4 linked regions of the Homo sapiens genome follow. The protein of the gene in region 1 interacts with the protein of each later gene in a pairwise test. Each region holds a gene or a part of one and is shown in the gene's direction. Other genes may lie near its edges.

Region 1 (4,624 bases):
TTGAACCTGGGAGGCAGAGGTTGCAGTAAGCCGAGATCATGCCGCTGCACTCCAGCCTGGGCAACAGAGTGAGACTCGGTCTCAAAAAAATAAATTAATAAGTAAATAAATTAAATAAATAGAAAGAAAGAAATCACAATGAGATACCACTTCACACCCATTAGGATGGCTACTATCCAAAAAACGGAAAACATCAAGTATTGGATGTGGAGAAATTGGAACCCTTGGTATGCCACTGGCGGGAATGTGAAATGGTTCAGCCACTGTGGAAAACAGTTTGGTGTTCCCTCAAAAAATTACCCTCTGACCCAGCAATTCCACTCCTGGGTATATAACCAAAGGATTCCAAGCAGGGACTTTAGTATTGGCACATGCATGTTCATAGCAGCAGTCTTCACAATAACACACAGCCCAGTGGCCATCAGCAATGAACTGAATAACAAAGTGCGACATATCCAAACAATGGATACTACCTGACCATAGAAAGGAATGAAGTACTGATACGTGCTACAAAGTTGATAAACCTTGAAAACTCTATGCTAAGCAAAAGACACAAGGCACAAAATGTCATATAGTGTATGATTCCGTTTATATAAAATACTGGAATAGATAAATCCATAGAGACAGAACACAAACCCTGGTGGTTTGCCAGGGACCAAGGGGAGCAATTGTTTAATCGCTATGTGGTTTCTTTTTGGGGGTAATGAAAATGCTTTGGAATTAGATTGAGTTGGTGGGTGCACAACACCATGAATGTACTAAATGCCACTGAACTGTCAACTTAAAATGATTGGTTTGATGATATGTGAATTTCACCTCAAGTTTAAAAAACAAAAAATAGAAATATTTCAAATGCCACAGAAGAACATATACAATACTTTAACAGACACCTACATAATTATTGCCCAACTTTGTCAAATCTTAATATTTTGCCTTGTTTGCTGTTATGTATTAAGGAAATGAAGCTTTCAGATGGCATCTAAGCCTCCTAGACATCCTTCTGTTATCTTATTCTCTCTCTCCCTCCGTCCTCAGGGCCACCTGTAGGCTGAATGTGGTGTTCACTTCCAAGCACAGGTTAGACTTTTACTGCACACATATGAACTACACATGGCATTGTTTTACATGTTTTCGCACTTTATGAAAATGCCAGCATACAGTACGTATCCTTCTGCAACATGCTTTCCAGGCAACATTATGTTCTGAGATTTATACATGTTGACTTTGTTTACCCAGTCTTCTGTTAATAGACACTTTGGATAGTTCCAATTTGCTGCCTTTAGCTATTGCAGACAGCATTGCTAAGAACATTCTCATATTTGCCTCTGTAGTTACCTGTTGGAAATGTCTCCCAGAGACACTTGGAGGATGTGACTTGTTGGGTCACAGGGGATATGCACATTGTCATTTTCCCAGGTGTTATCACATTGCCGTCCAAAAGAGTAATTCCAATTTACACACCCCAGGAGCAGATTTACTGGGAAGCTGATGTTTAATTAAGTTCAAGACCCCTACTTACTCAAGCCCCTTCCAAGACTCTGCCTAATTTTGTATTCTCTTATAAAGATGGTCCTCCTGATTGTTTAAGCTTCAGGCTAAACCTGGACCTTCCCCGGCCCCTACCAGCAGCACATGAAAGTCGCCATTGTTCCTCATCACTTGGTAGCGTCAGACTTTATAATTTTCTGCTAGTCCAATGGGTGTGAAATGCTTGATTATTTTTTAAATCTGTAGTCCACTGAGTTGTTGATGACTCATAGTTCAGATTCCCATGCCTGACCTCCCAACAGCCTGGGAGGCGCAGATGTCCAAGCTGATCCGGGTGGAGCGCCACTTCCATGGTGAGGGGACTGCCCACTGGAGCAAGTGAGGGTGGCAGCTCAGGGTGGGGCATAGCAACCTCTCCTTGGCCCAGCACCCCTATCCCAGACCTCCTGACCTCTGAAAGCTGCAGAGTCCTCACAGGAAGAGGAAGGCAGGCCCAACTAGGAAGTGAGACTGCCTTTCCAAATACCTCCAGAGCCACAGAGGCTGTGCCCCTATTGCAGGTGGTGTGGTCATCAGTGCAGCCCCATATAGGCCAAGGGTGAAATAGCCAATGCTCTCCCCTCCTCCAACAAAACCCAGGGCTTTGCTTCTCGTCTGCTCCCCTGCAAAAGTCCCACCCAGTGAGGAACTTTTCCTTTTGGAGCCACTCTCTGTCTCTGTCTCCGTCTCCATTCTAAGCCAGGGACTTCCTTGACACTGGGCCACCATTCAGGGAATGAAAGGTTCACAGGGAAGGCTTTCTGTCTCAGCTGGGGCCCCCAGATGCGAGGTCTCCCACAGAGTGCCAGGAGAGACCCCCTACCCATTCAGGACTTGTGAAGGAAGTGCCTGAAGAGGGTTGTGAGATCATCTACTCAGCCCCCTCCTCCCCAGGCCACAAAGGAGGCAGGGTTGTGAGTGAGGGTGTGAGGAATGCCGCCCAGCCCTCCAGGGGCATGCCCTTCCTCCTCTGTGCCTCAGAAACACGAACAGAAGTGCAGTCACATCACGGGTTGGGGTTGGGGTGGGGAGACACCCGCAATCAGTTTGCAGTTTTGACAGTTACAGTGAACTGGACAGAGTAATGACTAAAATGACACCTTTTCTGTGACCCAAAGTGACTGGACTGTTATTAAGAGTGACCAGAGAGGTCTGGGGACTTCTGCTAGATTTCTACCTGGCTGGGGAATAGCCAGCCCGACAGAGCCGGGACTGGGCCATGGGCCAGCGAGGCAGTTTCGCATTAGGTGGTCCAAGCTGTGGCTGCACTGAGAAGGTGGCATGGGAACTCCTAGGAGACCAGAGACGTAGAATGACAGAAACCTCACTTTCAGAGCTGGCAGGGAACTGAGGCTCAGACAGGGAGCAACTTGCCTGGGTCACCGGGTCTCCAGGGTCCAGTGAGCACTTCTGGCAGTGAGCAGATCATGCCCAGGCTTCTCCTTTCACCTAATCAGCCACACGAGATTTTGCTTGCACTAGAAGGCACACTGGGATCCTGAGTAGGCAGCCCTGCCCACCTGGCAGCTCTGGGCAAGGCTTGGTCCCTTCTCTCCCCCAACAGGAATGAAGGGACAGCTCAGGACCACTGGGAAGCTCACACCTCCTCTGGGTCTCCTTGTCAAAAACACACCCTGCAGGTTCTGAGTCACGAGGTCCAGGGCAGGTTGAAGAACCCGCATTGCACTGCACACCCTCCACTGACTGGCTGAGACTTGGAGCGGACATCTCGAGGCCAGGCCACCCTCTTGATATTTTTATGGGGGATAGAATAGTGGGAACAGTTCTCAGGGAGAGGCTGGGGCAAGCAGCCAGGTGCTCTGAGGTTCTCACAAGTCAGACCAGGGACCTCCTCTGTTCTGGAGAAAGTTCCCTGCTGTGCTAGCTAGGAGCCTCTCCTACAGGCACCAGGGAGTGGGGCAGGCCCCGCTTGGCCAGAATGGGATGGTGGCTGAGTTGGCCTTCTCTGACTGTGTCCACTGGCTCCTGGCTCTGTCCCTTCTCTGTAGCTATTTAGAGAGGGCTACTGCCTGATCTTCCGTGTTTTCTCCTCTCTTCCTCTCTAAAGGGAGGAGAAGTGTTCTAGACAGAGATTTCACAGGGGTTTGGTGGAGAAGTGACTTTTCTGGTTTTTCAAGACCAGAGGCTGGCTTTGGTGAGGACTCAGTAACTTTGAGCTGCTCCCTGGAAACTGCTAAGTGTGATGATGGGGCTCATCTCCACAGGATTGTCAGACATGTGTCATCACACCTGAGCTATATTTTAAAAGATTGCCTTTTAGCTTTTCATAAGTCACTCCCCCACCTCACAGGGATGGGGCAATGCCAGAACTGGTGCAAAGGCACCCTTTCTGTCCCAGTGCTTTCAGAAGTGAGTAGGAAGCCCCACGATGCTGCTGCCAGCAGCGCTCACACTCAGGTCGGCCAGGGACAAGGGCTGAATTTTGCACCTATACTCGCCACACCAGCAGGCGAGGGGCAGAGCATATTGTGCTGCCAGCACAGACTAGCTCTGCACAGCCTTAGCAGTGGCTTGGCTTTGTCCTGGGCCCAGACACATTCTCCAGAGAAGGGGCTGGGAGTAGGGACTGGACCACCTGGGACCTGCCTTGACACAGGACAGAGCCAGCCAGACTTGAACTAGAAGGGGCTGGGGGCTGACTTAAGCCACTCCAGGGCTTCCTCCTGGCCCCTCCAGTGTCAGTGCCGGACATGGTGCTTTGGACCAGCAGGCCTCAGGGACAGGTGCTGATAGGACACCCCAGAGGGTGTACCCTCCTGGTGTTGATGGGTGTGAGGACAGTGGGGGACTGTGCCCCTTGTCCTTGAAGCAGGAACGTTCTGGGGTGTGTGGCCAGCTCCTTCTCACAGCTTTCAGATTGTTCCCAAGGGCATGGAGCATGGAGCAGGTCCCTCGTGGTCTCTCATCAATTTGGAAGGCTCCAAATTGCCTTTGACACCCTGGTGAAAGGTTTGATACCCAGTGAGCTCCTAGCTGGGCATGAGCAGTGTAGCCATTTCCCTTCTTGGGGTCATGAACGTGCCACACTCTGCTTCTCTGCAGCACTTCTCCCCAGGCTCTCTGCCGCTGCTACCTC
Region 2 (4,624 bases), on another chromosome or scaffold:
GATTAACTCATATGTTGTATGTTATATGTATTGTACACTGCATTCTTACAATAAAGTAATCTAGGGAGAAGAAAATGCTATTATGAAAATCATAAAGAGGAGGAAGTAAGTTCATTAACTGGAAATGGATCATCATAAAGGTCTTCATCCTCATGGTGTTCACCTTGAGTAGGTGGAGGAGGAGGAAGAGGAGGTGTTGGTCTTGCTGTCTCAGGAATGGCAGAGGGAGAAGGAAATCCACATATAAGTGGACCCACACAGTTCAAACCCATGTTTTTCAAGGCTCAATTATAGCTGGAAATAATAGACCCTGTTACAGTCCACACTCTTGCTCATCAATATTCATTTCCCTCTCTTCAGCTGCAAAATATACTCCTCCCCTCCCCAGGGGAGACTTCCCAACAGTCCCATCCAGTTATAACACCAGACTCAAGCTCTAGAATCTCATGATGCTCATCAAATCTGGATGTGGCTCTTCTTGGTATGGAAACATAAAAACTAAAAAGTCAAATTACCCCTCACCCTTGCCCGACACAAACACACACTTGACATATGGTGGTGGACCAGGGTCAGGCCAACCACCAAAAACATTCCCCTCTGGAAAGCAAAACATGGGATACCCATAGCGGTCAGAGGCTCAGAGCAGTTCTGAAACCCTGTTGGACAAAAACCTTGGGGTGAGGAATTTTCCCTCAATTAGCTGCTTCTGCTTCCTAGAAGTGACCCTGGATGACATTGTTCTCCAAGATTCCCAGGAAAGCTGTCCTTTTCCACTATTCTTGTACTTACTCTATGAGGGCATTGTGTAATACACCCTTCCTGGGACCCGTGTAGCTTATCCTCTTAATTGCTTGGGCCCGTAGGTTGGGAAGTCCAAAGATCTTTTTTTTTTTTTTTTTTTGCAACAGAGTCTCGCTCTGTCACCCAGGCTGGAGTGCAGTGACACAATGTCGGCTCACTGCAAGCTCCGCCTCCCGTGTTCACACCATTCTCCTGCCTCAGCCTCCTGAGTAGCTGGGACTACAGGCGCCCGCCACCATGCCCGGCTAATTTTTTTGTATTTTTTAGTAGAGACGGGGTTTCACCATGTTAGCCAGGATGGTCTCAATCTCCTGACCTTGTGATCCGCCAGCCTCGGCCTCCCAAAGTGCTAGGATGACAGGCGTGAGCCACCGCGCCCGGCCCCAAAGATCTTTTAAAGTTTGGAACAGTTATAGTGTCTTTTAATCCAAGATTGTTGGCTCTTGGCCAGTATAGCTCTCAAGGACTTAGTTATGTTTTTATCTGGCTCCAATCAGTTATGCTAGTAAACACATCCACAATTATTTTTGAGACATACCTCTCTCTAAACTTAATAACAGGCTTCCTAGGAGAGTCACTTAACACATTCAGAGATTTTTTTAAAGAGGCATTGATTTGTTTCAATAGGGCTGTATTATTACTTAAAGCATTTCTTTATTTTATCTCTTACTAGTTGGAGATGAGAAACAATTGCTCTTGGTGCAGTGCCTGTAATCTCAGCACTTTGGGAGGCTGAAGCCAGAGTATTGCTTGAGGCCAGGAGTTCGAAACCAGCCTGGCCAACATGGTGAAACCCTGTCTCCACTAAAAATACAAAAATTAGCCAGGTGTGGTGCACATGCCTATAATCCCAGCTTCTTGGGAGTCTGAGGCAGGCAACATAGCCAGACCCTGTCTCTACTAAAAATACAAAAATTAGCTAGGTGTGGTGGTGTGTGCCTGTAATCCCAGCTTCTTGGGAGGGTGAGACAGAAGGATCACTTGAACTCGGGAGGTGGAGGTTGCAGTGAGCCAAGATTGCGCCACTGTACTCCAGCCTGGGTGACAGAGCAAGACTCCATCTCAAATAATAATAATAATAATAATAATAATAATAATAATGATGATGATGATAAATAAAATAGCTGGACATGGTGGTGCATGTCTGTCATCCTAACTACTTAGGAGGATGAGGCAGGAGGATCACTTGAGCCCAGATGTTTGAAGTTGCAGTGAGCTGTGATCACACCACAGCATATCAGCCTGGACCACCGAGCAAGACCTTGTCTCTAAAAAAATAGAACTAGAAATAGAAATGGGGGCTTTGAGAAATGTGTGGATAGGAAGATAACAAGATCATTACGAGAAAAAAAAGAAACAATTGCTTCTTTCAATGCTGCAACGCCAGGAATTTCTGAGTGGTTTTTATTTTTGGCTTGCAAATCAACCAGTTCTTTCCTGAGCTCATCTCTTTCTTGTAGTGCTCTGTTAGATGCAGCTAATTTCAATTGTGAATCACGGCATTCTGTTTCACAGACTTTTTACCTAAAACCACTGGACTCGGATTCAATATCTGCCTGTCCTCCAAGGTATCACAGGCAACAGTTTTACCAAATGTTTTGCTATCGTATTACAGGGATCTGTGTCTTTCCAGCCTCCAGTCACAGTTTTCTCATTTTTCACTGCCTGGCTCCGGAACCAGTACATTGTCTTTTAGAATTTTGGTTATGGTAGCCTCTTAGTTTTATGTACCAATTTCTCTATTTTTGACATAGACCAACAATGGTCTAAGTTATGCTGCCGTAGCAAACAAGCCCCAAATCTCAATGGTTCATAACAACACAGGGTATTCCTGACGTGAGCTGTCCATTGTGATTCAGCTGTAGGTGTTCCCCACTTTATCCTCATTCTGAGACCCAGCCCGAAGGAACAGCCTCTATCTGGGGCATGTAATTCTCATAGCAGAGGGAAAGAACAAATGTTAGAACCACACAATGATTCATAAAGCTGTGAATTAGATGTGGTAGATGTGACTTCTACTCACATTTTATTGGCCAAGAAAGTGACACTACTGGCCAGGCGCAGTGGCTCACACCTGTAATCCCAGCACTTTGGGAGGCCGAGGCGGGTGGATCACCTGAGGTCAGGAGTTCGAGACCAGCTTGACCAACATGGCGAAACCCCGTCTCTACTAAAAATACAAAAATTAGCTGGGCGTGGTGGTGCACACCTGTAATCCCAGCTACTCGGGAGGCTGAGGAAGGAGAATTGCTTGAACCCGGGAGGTGGAGTTTGCAGTCAGCCGAGATCGCGCCACTGCACTCCAGCCTGCGAGATGGAAGCAAGACTCCATTTCGGAAAAAAAAAAAAAAAAAGAAAAAAGAAAGCGACACTATCAAACCTAATATAAATGGAGTGGAAAAGTACAGTCCTCTCTCGGGGAGGGGCAGGATGTAATCAGGAACTCTGCACCTCTCCTTCAGCAGCTTTTCTTCATGAACATGACTTTGAACTTGTGTTTTTATCTTGTTAGAACAAGATTCATGGCCAGGCACAGTGGCTTACACCTGTAATCCCAGCACTTTCAGGAGGCCAAGGCAGGAGTACTTGAGGCCAGGAGTTTGAGACCAGCCTGGGAAACATAGCAAGACCTTGTCCCTACAAAAAATTGTAAATGTTAGACAGGCGCAGTGGCTCATGTCTGTAATCCCAGCTACTTGGGAGGCTGAGGCAGGAGGATGGCTTCAGCCCAGGAGTTCAAGGCTGCAGGGAGCTATGATCACACCACTGGACTCCAGCCTGGATGATAGGGCAAGACCCTGTCTCTAAATTTTTTTTTAAACGATACATAATTAGGCCGGGCGTGGTGGCTCAGGCCTGTAATCCTAGCACTTTGGGAGGCCGAGGCGGGCGGATCACTTGAGGTCAGGAGTTCAAAACCAGCATGGCCAACACGGTGAAACCCCGTCTCTACTAAGCATACAAAAAAATTAGCCGGGCGTGGTGGCGGGCACCTGTAATTCCAGCTACTACGGAGGCTGAGGCAGGAGAATCGCTTGAACTCGGGAGGCGAGGTTGCAGTGAGCCGAGATCTCGCCGCTGCACTCCAGCCTGGGCGAAAGAGCAAGATTCTATCTCAAAAAAAAAAAAAAAAAGATACATGCTTAAACCAATATGGGAATTGCCAGAGTGTTGGTAAATTATAAAAATTTTAGAGACGTATGCATTATATAAAGGGTTTCACCATTCTAAAGTACACAAAGTATGCAGGGTTGACAGCAGATGGCTGGATGAATAGGAAACCAGACTGGCGGGTGGCATTTTTTTTCTCCAAGAAGCTAAAGCGAAGGGAATATGTTCCACTCTCTATCATTCCAATAAGTCCCTGCAAGTTCATGAGTATACTTGGAGCTGAACAGGATGGAAAACTGTTCACCTGATATCCTGAAACGCTGAGACAAGTTTCTGCAGAGCAGCTGTGGGTCTGGCCTGTCATGGCCCGAGCCAACTTCCCATCTCCACATGCTTCTGACCATCTCACTACTCTTTATCTCCACAGTTTGACATGCAAAGGATAACTCTGGAAGAGTTGAAGCACATTCTCTATCATGCCTTCCGAGACCACCTAACGATGAAGGACATTGAGAACATCATTATCAATGAGGAAGAGAGCCTGAATGAGACCTCGGGGAACTGCCAAACAGAGTTTGAAGGAGGTAGGTGCCCCTGCTGCCATCCCCTCCCCGGTCCGGGACAGGCCAATGCACCACACTCTCTATATGAAAAATGCGTTCACACACAGGCTCTTGGGCTGATGTTCCCTTGTACTGAAGCCAAAAATCCA
Region 3 (4,624 bases), on another chromosome or scaffold:
CCAGTGGTTGCTTTCGTACTGCAGTAGCAGAGTTAAGCAGTTGCAACAGAAACCGTATGGCCCAAAAAGCCTGAGATATTTACTATCTGGCCTTTTGCAGGAAGTTTGCTGGTCCCTGTATAGAGTGAAATGATCTAGGGATTAGTAAATACACCAGTAAATGAGTTCAGCTTTGGAAAATCCGTGGAGATCCATAGGTGAAAACTAATTAAACCTTAGCAAGCTAAGCTTATAACTTTATGTGAGGAGAATTCTCTGTTAATATTTTTTCTTCTTCTATACTCATTTGGGAAGATTGGAGCTGCTGCCCAACCCCTTGGACTTCATTTCAGTCTAGTTGCTACTTTATTTCTACTGGGATGCAATCTTGGACTAAGAGTCAAAAGAACTGTTCTGTGATGGGGGCTGATCTGGTGGTGATCAACACCAGGGAAGAACAGGTATGTTCTAACAGGCAAGGTGGTCAGCTAATCTGTTTCCTTTCTTAACTGATAAAGAGTCTTTTTATTGCCCTGAAAGTTCAAAGACAGGAAAAAAAAAAAAACTTCTGGGTAAAAAAAAACCCAAAAAACAAAAAACACAGGAAAATCTCCTTAATCTGGAACACTCAAAAATGACTTTTATTTTTATTTTTTTTGGGGGGACTGTCTCCTTTTGTCACCCAAGCTGGAGTGTAATGGCACGATCTCAGCTCCCTGCAGCCTCCGCCTCCCGGGGTCAAGTGATTCTCCTGCCTCAGCCTCCCAAGTAGCTGGGAGGATAGGCATGTACCGCCACGCCTGGCTAATTTTTGTATTTTTAGAAGAGACGAGGTTTCACCATGTTAGTCAGGCTGATCTTGAACTACTGACCTCAAATGATCCACCTGCCTCGGCCTCTCAAAGTGTTGGGATTATAGGCGTGAGCCACCATGTGTGGCCAACAATAACTTTATTTTTTATTTTTATTTATTTATTTATTTATTTTGAGACGGAGTCTTGCTCTGTTGCCCAGGCTGGAGTGCAGTGGCACAATCTCAGCTCACTGCAAGCTCAGCCTCCCGGGTTCACACCATTCTCCTGCCTCCCAAGTAGCTGGGACTACAGGCACCTGCCACCACGCCCGGCTAATTTTTTTGTATTTTTAGTAGAGATGGGGTTTCACTGTGTTAGCCAGGATGGTCTGGATCTCCTGACCTCGTGATCTGCCCGTCTCGGCCTCCCAAAGTGCTGGGATTACAGGTGTGAGCCACCACGTCTGGCTAACAATAACTTTAATAAAACAAATTCCGGAGCAAACTTCAGGCAAACATTGATGTTGAAATTTGATCCTGAAGAATTTTAATTTTAAAAATATAAGAAAAAAAATTCAGGCAAATAAAATAGTGAATTTGAAAAATGGAAAAATGATATTAATATTTGCCATCTAAGAAATGTCAACCAATTAAACATTAGTCCTTCATACTGTATCCTCTGCATTTCTTACCTTCTTTTCAACATTTTCCATCTATTTTTCTCTTTGTACTTGATTTTAAACAGTTTCTTCTGTCCTTCTATTCCAGTTCACTAATCTTCTTTTTGTTTTTGAGACAGAGTCTCACTCTGTTGCCCAGGCTGGAGTGCAATGGCGCCCAGGCTGGAGTGCAATGGCACGGTCTTGGCTCACTGCAACCTCCGCCTCCCAGGTTCAAGCGATTCTCCTGCCTCAGCTTCCCGAGTAACTGGGACTCCAGGTGCGTGCCACCACACCCAGCTAATTTTTGTATTTTTAGTAGAGACGGGGGTTTCACCATGTTGGCCAGGCTGGTCTTGAACTCCTGACCTCGTGATCCACCCACCTCGGCCTCCCAAAGTTCTGGGATTACAGGCGTGAGCCACCACACCTGGCCCTCCCACTTGACTAATCTTCTTCAACTATGTCTATCCTGCTATTAAAGCCATATATTAACATCTAAATTCAATTATTGTATTTTTCAAATCTAGAATTGATCTTGCTTCTCTTTCAAATATGCTGTCAAACTTTATAATGTTCAACACTTAAGCTTGTTTTTTTGCTGTTACTGGTTTTTGCTTTTTTTTTCTTTTTTTTGAGATGGAGTCTTGCTCTGTCGCCAGGCTGGAGTGCAGTGGCTCGATCTCAGCTCACTGCAACCTCCACCTCCTGCGTTCAAGCGATTCTCCTCTCTGTCTCCCGAGTAGCTGGGATTACAGGCGACCACCACCACACCTGGCTAATTTTTGTATTTTTAGTAGAGACGGGGTTTCACCATATTGGCCAGGCTAGTCTCAAACTCCTGACCTCGTGATCTGCCTGCCTCGGTCTCCCAAAGTGCTGGGATTACAGGCGTGAGCCACCGTGCCTGGCCGTTTTTTTTTTTTTTTTTCTTTGAGACAGAGTCTTGTTCTATCGCCCAGGCTGGAGTGCAGTGGCAAGATCTCTGCTTACTGCAACCTCTGCTTCCTGGGTTCAAGCGATTCTCCTGTCTCAGCCTCCTGAATAGCTGGGATTACAGGCGCCTGCAACCACGCCCAGCTAATTTTTGTATTTTTAGTAAAGATGAGGTTTTACCATGTTGGCCAGGCTAGTCTCGAACTCCTGACCTCAGGTGATCTACCTGCCCCAGCCTCCCAAATTGCTGGGATTACAGGTGTGGGCCACTGTGCCCAGATCTTCTTTTTTTATTTTTTTGAGACAGAGTCTCTCTCTGTCACCCCAGGCTGGAGTGCAGTGGTGTGATCTCGGCTCACTGCAACCTCTGACTTCTGTGTTCAAGTGATTCTTCTGACTCAGCCTCCTGACCAGCTGGGATTACAGGTGCATGCCACCGCTCCTGGCTAATTTTTGTATTTTTAGTAGAGACAGGGTTACACCATGTTGTCCAGGCTAGTCTCAAACTCCTGGCCTCAAGTGATCAGCCTGCCTCGGTCTCCCAAAGTGCTGGGGTTATAGGCCTGAGACACCATGCCTGGCCTATGGAATGTTTCAAATTATCCTTGTGTGATGGATGTTGTACTTGAAAAATTATTTATAAAAATAATTGGAGGCCAGGCACGGTGGCTCATGCTTGTAATCCTAGCACTTTGGGAGGCTGAGGCGGGTGGATCACCTCAGGTCAGGAGTTTGAGACCAGCCTGGCCAACATGGCGAAACCCTTCTCTACTAAAAATACAAAAATTAGCTCGGCATGGTGGCACATGCCTGTAATCACAGTTACTCGGGAGGCTGAGGCAGGAGAATCACTTGAACCCAGGGGGCAGAGGTTGCAGTGAGCCAAGATCATGCCACTTCGTTCCAGTCTGGGTGAAAAAGCAAAACTGTCTCAAAAAAAAAAAAAAAATTGGAGGCCTCAGATATTATTCTCTTCCAAAGAGTATTTTCATTTGCTTTTGCCACATGCCTTGGCACAAGTCCTACAGTACATTATGGCAATTTCAGGGCTTGAAATTTCTACAATATCCAAATGATTCAAAGCCAGATCATAATCTATATGAGGTCTGATTTACTGCCTATTTACCCTTACCTCTTTCTTGGCTCTGGACTCTAATTTTTGCCTAACCGTACAAAGTTTTCAAAAGTGCTGTTCATCCTGTCTCCCCAGCCATGTTGTAAACTTTTATTTGTTTTGACTTCTTATGCCACATTTAGCACAGGGTCTGGGCAGACAATAGACTGCTTGAATGTTCAATGAATGAATGAATAGATAAATTGATATGGCGGAGAGGGAGGGAAGCACACAAACCACTAACAATGTCTCGTATATGTTCATGTACATTCAAAATAATCTGAAAACCTATGTCAAAATATCTTTTCTTGTTTGTACAACATTATTTGAGGCCTGGCGACGTGTTTCATGCCTGTAGTCCCGGATACTTGGGTGGCTGAGGCAGAAGAATTGCTTGAATCTGGGAGGTAGAGGTTGCAGTGAGCCGAGATCATACCACTGCACTCCAGCCTGGGTGAGAGAGCAAGACTCCATCTCAAAAAGAAACAAGTAAAACAAAACAAAATATATGACGGCTGGGTGTGGTGGCTCACGCCTGTAATCTCAGCATGTTGGGAGGCGAAGGTGGGCAGATCACTTGAGGCCAGGAGTTCAAGACCAGCTTGGGGGCCAGGTGCGGTGGCTCACGCCTGTAATCCCAGCACTTTGGGAGGCTGAGGCAGCTGGATCACAAGGTCAGGAGATTGAGACCATCCTGGCTAATATGGTGAAACCCCGTCTCTACTAAAAATACAAAAAATTAGCAGGGCATGGTGGCGGGAGCCTGTAGTTCCAGCTACTCGGGAGGCTGAGGCAGGAGAATGGCGTGAACCCAGGAGGCGGAGCTTGCAGTGAGCCAAGATCTCGCCACTGCACTCTAGCCTGGGCGACAGAGCAAGACTCAGTCTCAAAAAAAAAAAAAAAAAAGACCAGCTTGGTCAACATGGTGAAACTCCATCTCTACTAAAAATACAAAAATTAGCCAGGTGTGGTGGCATACACCTGTAGTCCCAGTTACTCAGGAGGCTGAGGCATGAGAATTGCTTGAACCCAGAAAGCAAAGGTTGCCCTGAGCCGAGATCACACCATTGCACTCCAGCCTTGGCAACAGACCAAGACTCCACCTCCAAAAAAAAAAAAAAATTTGGCTTTCTAAAATTTGAT
Region 4 (5,061 bases), on another chromosome or scaffold:
GGTGGAGCCGCCTGCACAGCACACTTCTGTAGACCACGGAATATGCTGTTTGACCTTGGCACTGTCTGCCACCTCCTCACCATCAGACCCTCATCAAACACCCTCCTACCTGTCACTTGACCTGGGGGTGGAAGTGACAAAGAGGAACCTAGGAGGCAGGGAGAAGGGAAATGGCCTGGCTCCCAAAAAAGGAAGTTAATTATTTGGCCAAAGAAGCTCTCCCTAATCCCCAAATGCTTTCTGCTGCTGGCCTCCAGAGAAGTTCCTGATAAGGGTCACTCTAGCCTTGGCTAGAACCATGGAAGTGGTTCCCAAACCTTGCCCAAAGCTCACTGATGGTACTCATTCCTCTCAGAAAGCGGGACTGATTCACACCTGGAAGATAATCATCAGGGAGCACCATCTGCGGTCCAAGACCCCAAAGGAGAAAATGGTGCTCCGAAGACATGAGATCAACACAGAGCTGGAGTCCCCCACCCACAGCCATCCAGCTGCCAAGCAGTTCAGGACAAGGCCCCCAAATCATCATGCGAATTACTGTGAAGCTACATTTCTCCAGGGCTTTACCATGTACAGAGCCAGGATTTGAACTCGGGTGGACTGATTCTATTCTCAGATTCCATCCTGCCTCCCAGCCATCCTACTGCTCACCGAGCCTTGCAGAGCAGGCTGGCACCTGGCATGCTTGGCAGTGGGTACATCCTTCCTCATTCCACAACTGAGGAAGCAGCAGCTCCGTGAAATTAGGCCGTTTGCAATGGCCACATACTCCTGAGAGGTAGAATGGGTACTCTACCAGTGCTGACCAACCAGACTTGAGCTCATCATTCAACACATGGCACCTGAACTGAGAAAAGGGGTCATGGGATGGAAAGAGCTCTGGACCCCTGACAATTCTGTGGCCCTAGCCTACAGCTCCCCACAAGGCTCAGCTCCTATATAGGGACTCCATGGTCTAGTGGGAAAGGCCCTGGGCCAGAAGGCCATGGCCAGGTTTAGGTCAGGACTCTGTAGCACTAGTTATGTGACCTTAGGAAGTCACTTTGTCCCTGTGACTTGGTTTCCGCATCTGCAAAACAGAGATAACATCTAACCTCACGTGATTATTGTCATCTAGTGAGATAAGTGAATGTGGAATCACTTTGAAAAGACTACAACACTACACTGCAGGATAGCCTTGTCGCCTGTAAAGGAAACCTCTCCAAGGCTGTGACCACTACAGATTTTGCCTGAGGTTAAGTCCCTTACTTCTCTCCCACTCCCACCCCCAGCCTGCCTGGGTTCAGTGTTCTTAAATTGAAACTGAAGCTAGAATGAACCTGAGGAAAGAAATATTAGTCTATGTGTATAGATGTCCAAGCCCACTGGGCATGATTTCCTAACCCCACCTCCAGCGTGCGCGCGCACACACACACACACACACACACATATACACACACACACACAGACACACACAATTATTTACTTCCTTCCCACCTAAAATGATTTCTCAAAATGAAATTACTTCCTATGGACACCTTGGACTCAGGCCAAAAAAAATTCCAATTGCTGGTAGTTTCTAAAGTGCTTGTTATGTGGGAAAGTTGACAAAAAACAATAGCTATAATATAGTGATCTTTCTTTCCACCAAGCATTCCATACGTGTTATCTCATTTGAGGTACCTTCAAAACAACTCTAGGAGTTATTTCCAGGTGAGGGGTCATTTAGAGGACATTGTCGATTGGCCAACCCAGCGTCTTGTTTTTCCTTCCCTAAAGAATCCCCATTGGGTTCATAGATCTGGTTCCACCCTTCACCACTTGGTCCAGAAGCAGGGGTGGAAGTGATGCAAAATGGTTGAATTCTAGATATATTTTGAAGACATGACCAAAAGGATGTGTGAGGGACTGGCTGTTGGTGTGAAAGAGAGGCATTACGAATGAGATTGGGCATGGAGACGTGTTTGGTGAGACAGAAGGCTTCATGCAAATACAAGATCATGCTTTTTATTATTAAGGAATGTTAACTTCCTCTTTTAGTATGGCCCCTCTGCCATCACATATGGAGACCATCCTTTGCTGGGGAGAATCTCCCCTTCTTTGCCAGGATCCTTTTTTTGCAATTTCTCCTAGTTATTAGTTTATGCAAACTCAGGGGTACAAAATGATTTTAAGGGAAGCATGCTGCCAAAATAACCATGACGTTCCTTCCCAAGCTACAAATAAGTCATTGATTAGCCCATTGGTGTACCTTACCTCAATAAACAAGGGCCAGTTGTATTCTGCCCTGGATCTTGTATAATGAACTTCTTCTTCTCCATAGCTCACAGCAGGCAGTGAAGGCTGAGGATCTTCATGCTTCTTCCCTGGCTCCCCTAGAATGGATGTGTGTGGCTGGAAAGAAATGGAGGTTGCGCTGGTCAATTTTGATAATTCAGATGAAATCCAAGAAGAGCCAGGCTATGCCACAGACTTCGACTCAACCAGCCCAAAAGGCCGGCCTGGGGGCAGCTCCTTCTCCAACGGGAAGATCCTCATCAGCGAAAGCACCAACCATGAGACGGCCTTCTCCAAGCTTCCGGGAGACTATGCTGACCCCCCAGGGCCTGAGCCAGTGGTCCTAAATGAAGGAAACCAGCGGGTGATCATCAACATTGCTGGGCTGAGATTTGAGACCCAGCTCAGAACCCTTAGTCAGTTCCCAGAGACTCTCCTGGGAGACCGGGAAAAAAGGATGCAGTTCTTTGACTCCATGAGAAATGAGTATTTCTTTGATCGGAACCGGCCCAGTTTTGATGGAATCCTATATTATTACCAATCTGGTGGGAAAATTCGGCGCCCAGCCAATGTTCCCATTGATATCTTTGCTGATGAAATCTCCTTCTATGAGCTGGGTAGTGAGGCCATGGACCAGTTCCGGGAGGATGAAGGCTTCATCAAAGACCCTGAAACACTGCTACCCACCAATGACATCCACCGTCAGTTCTGGCTCCTCTTTGAGTACCCTGAAAGTTCCAGCGCTGCCCGTGCTGTGGCCGTGGTCTCGGTGTTGGTTGTGGTCATCTCCATCACCATCTTCTGCCTGGAGACACTGCCAGAGTTCCGGGAGGATAGGGAGCTAAAGGTGGTCAGAGACCCCAATCTCAACATGAGCAAGACAGTCCTCTCCCAGACCATGTTCACCGACCCTTTCTTCATGGTGGAGTCTACCTGCATCGTGTGGTTCACCTTCGAGCTGGTGCTCCGGTTCGTGGTCTGCCCCAGCAAGACTGACTTCTTCAGGAACATCATGAACATCATTGACATCATCTCCATTATCCCCTACTTTGCAACTCTCATCACAGAGCTAGTCCAGGAGACAGAGCCGAGTGCCCAACAGAACATGTCCCTGGCCATCCTGAGGATCATCCGCCTGGTGAGGGTCTTCCGCATCTTCAAGCTCTCGCGCCACTCCAAGGGGCTGCAGATCCTCGGGCAAACACTGAAGGCGTCCATGCGGGAGTTGGGGTTGCTCATCTTCTTTCTCTTCATTGGAGTCATCCTCTTCTCCAGTGCAGTCTACTTTGCTGAGGTGGATGAGCCAGAGTCCCATTTCTCTAGCATTCCTGATGGCTTCTGGTGGGCAGTGGTCACCATGACAACTGTAGGCTATGGGGACATGTGCCCGACCACCCCAGGGGGGAAGATTGTGGGCACTCTGTGTGCCATTGCAGGGGTCCTCACCATTGCCCTCCCTGTGCCTGTCATTGTCTCCAACTTCAATTACTTCTACCACCGGGAGACTGAGAATGAAGAAAAGCAGAACATCCCAGGAGAAATTGAAAGAATCCTCAACAGTGTAGGCTCAAGAATGGGCAGCACAGACTCTCTTAATAAGACCAATGGTGGCTGTTCCACAGAGAAGTCTAGGAAATGATCAGTCCAGGGCTTCTTGGGTCCATCCTGTCTCTCTTCTCTCTTCTCTCTCTCTCTCTCTCGCTTTCTCCCCTCCTCTCTCTCTTCCTTCTGCCTTCCCTTCCTCCCTTCATTCCTTCCTCTTTCCCTCTCCCTTCTCTCATTTCATCTTTCCAAAGATCAAAATGTATCTTTTGTGATCAATAACTATCTTTGACTACAAGCTATTTTAATAAGCCCATACTTCTACTGTATTTTCTAAACTGTTTCTTTTCAATACATTATAGAAAGATTTGGATCTCTTTTCCTATGAAGGGATAGTTCAGGTCCCCAGACCAGAAATACTGGTATCACCCGGGAGGATGAAAATGCAGAATCTAGGCCTACTCTGACCTACTGAATCAGAATCTGCAGTTTAACAAGATCCCAAGTGATTCGTTTGCATATTAAAGATTTAAAAGCACTGGTTTTGGTCTTCCTACGAGGAAGCATATGAAAAGACCAAGGGTTGCTGTGAGCAAAGAGGAAGAGCTCAGAGTTATTCAATTACAATAATAATAATACCTTGTACTTGTGTAGCACTGCATAAATTTTCCAAAAACACTTTCACCTACATTATCTCACTGCATCTTAGAATAATCAGATTTGATTATTATTTGATTTGATTATTATTCCCACATTACAGGTGAACAAACCAGGGGAGAGCAACTTACCTAAGGTCACCCAGAAACAGTGATATAGTCAATGCTGTCAAATCTCCTACCTACTAGCCCAGTGCCCTTTCCACTAATGAAGAAGATGTGTCAGAATTGGGGGAAAGGTGAGAGGAGTTTGAGGGGACTTTCAGAGGGTCCAGGCAGCAAACCTCTGGGCAGAGACACCCTTCCCCGGATGCTTCAGGATCTCCTCACAGCCTGGGAAGGCAGCATCTCCCTGACCCCTTGCTCCTCAGCCCCTTTTCTGGATAGTGGACAAGCAGAAACATCCCTCGATGTTTTCACCTGGCTCATCTCCATGGAGTTACACAAAGACTGGGGATCCTGAGTGTGGGAACTGTGGGCCCTAGAGAACTGCTCCAGGAAAGTGCACTTGTCCACCTGCCTCGAGGTTCAGCTCCCATTGAGTCATCAGGAATTGGCCAATAGCCTGTGGAGCTGCTGGGAAGGGAAGAGCAGGCTTCCACGTCAT

What was found. Proteins that work in one complex are often made in the same cells at the same time.
Region 2: the proteins of MAL (region 1) and CALN1 interact in binary tests that used the Homo sapiens proteins (3 or more experiments, as listed by UniProt).
Region 3: the proteins of MAL (region 1) and CLEC4C interact in binary tests that used the Homo sapiens proteins (3 or more experiments, as listed by UniProt).
Region 4: the proteins of MAL (region 1) and KCNA10 interact in binary tests that used the Homo sapiens proteins (3 or more experiments, as listed by UniProt).

Annotation. Positions count from the first base shown.
Region 1 is NC_000002.12:95,028,240-95,032,863, forward strand, and holds part of MAL (myelin and lymphocyte protein), read left to right. Parts: intron 1-4,624. UniProt on the Homo sapiens protein: May be involved in vesicular trafficking from the Golgi apparatus to the cell membrane. Plays a role in the maintenance of the myelin sheath, and in axon-glia and glia-glia interactions.
Region 2 is NC_000007.14:71,810,208-71,814,831, reverse strand, and holds part of CALN1 (calcium-binding protein 8), read left to right. Parts: intron 1-4,339; coding exon 4,340-4,496; intron 4,497-4,624. UniProt on the Homo sapiens protein: Negatively regulates Golgi-to-plasma membrane trafficking by interacting with PI4KB and inhibiting its activity. May play a role in the physiology of neurons and is potentially important in memory and learning.
Region 3 is NC_000012.12:7,733,245-7,737,868, reverse strand, and holds part of CLEC4C (C-type lectin domain family 4 member C), read left to right. Parts: intron 1-294; coding exon 295-440; intron 441-4,624. UniProt on the Homo sapiens protein: Lectin-type cell surface receptor which may play a role in antigen capturing by dendritic cells. Specifically recognizes non-sialylated galactose-terminated biantennary glycans containing the trisaccharide epitope Gal(beta1-3/4)GlcNAc(beta1-2)Man.
Region 4 is NC_000001.11:110,516,086-110,521,146, reverse strand, and holds KCNA10 (potassium voltage-gated channel subfamily A member 10), read left to right. Parts: upstream 1-1,971; 5' UTR 1,972-2,359; coding exon 2,360-3,895; 3' UTR 3,896-3,930; downstream 3,931-5,061. UniProt on the Homo sapiens protein: Voltage-gated potassium ion channel that mediates K(+) permeability of excitable membranes.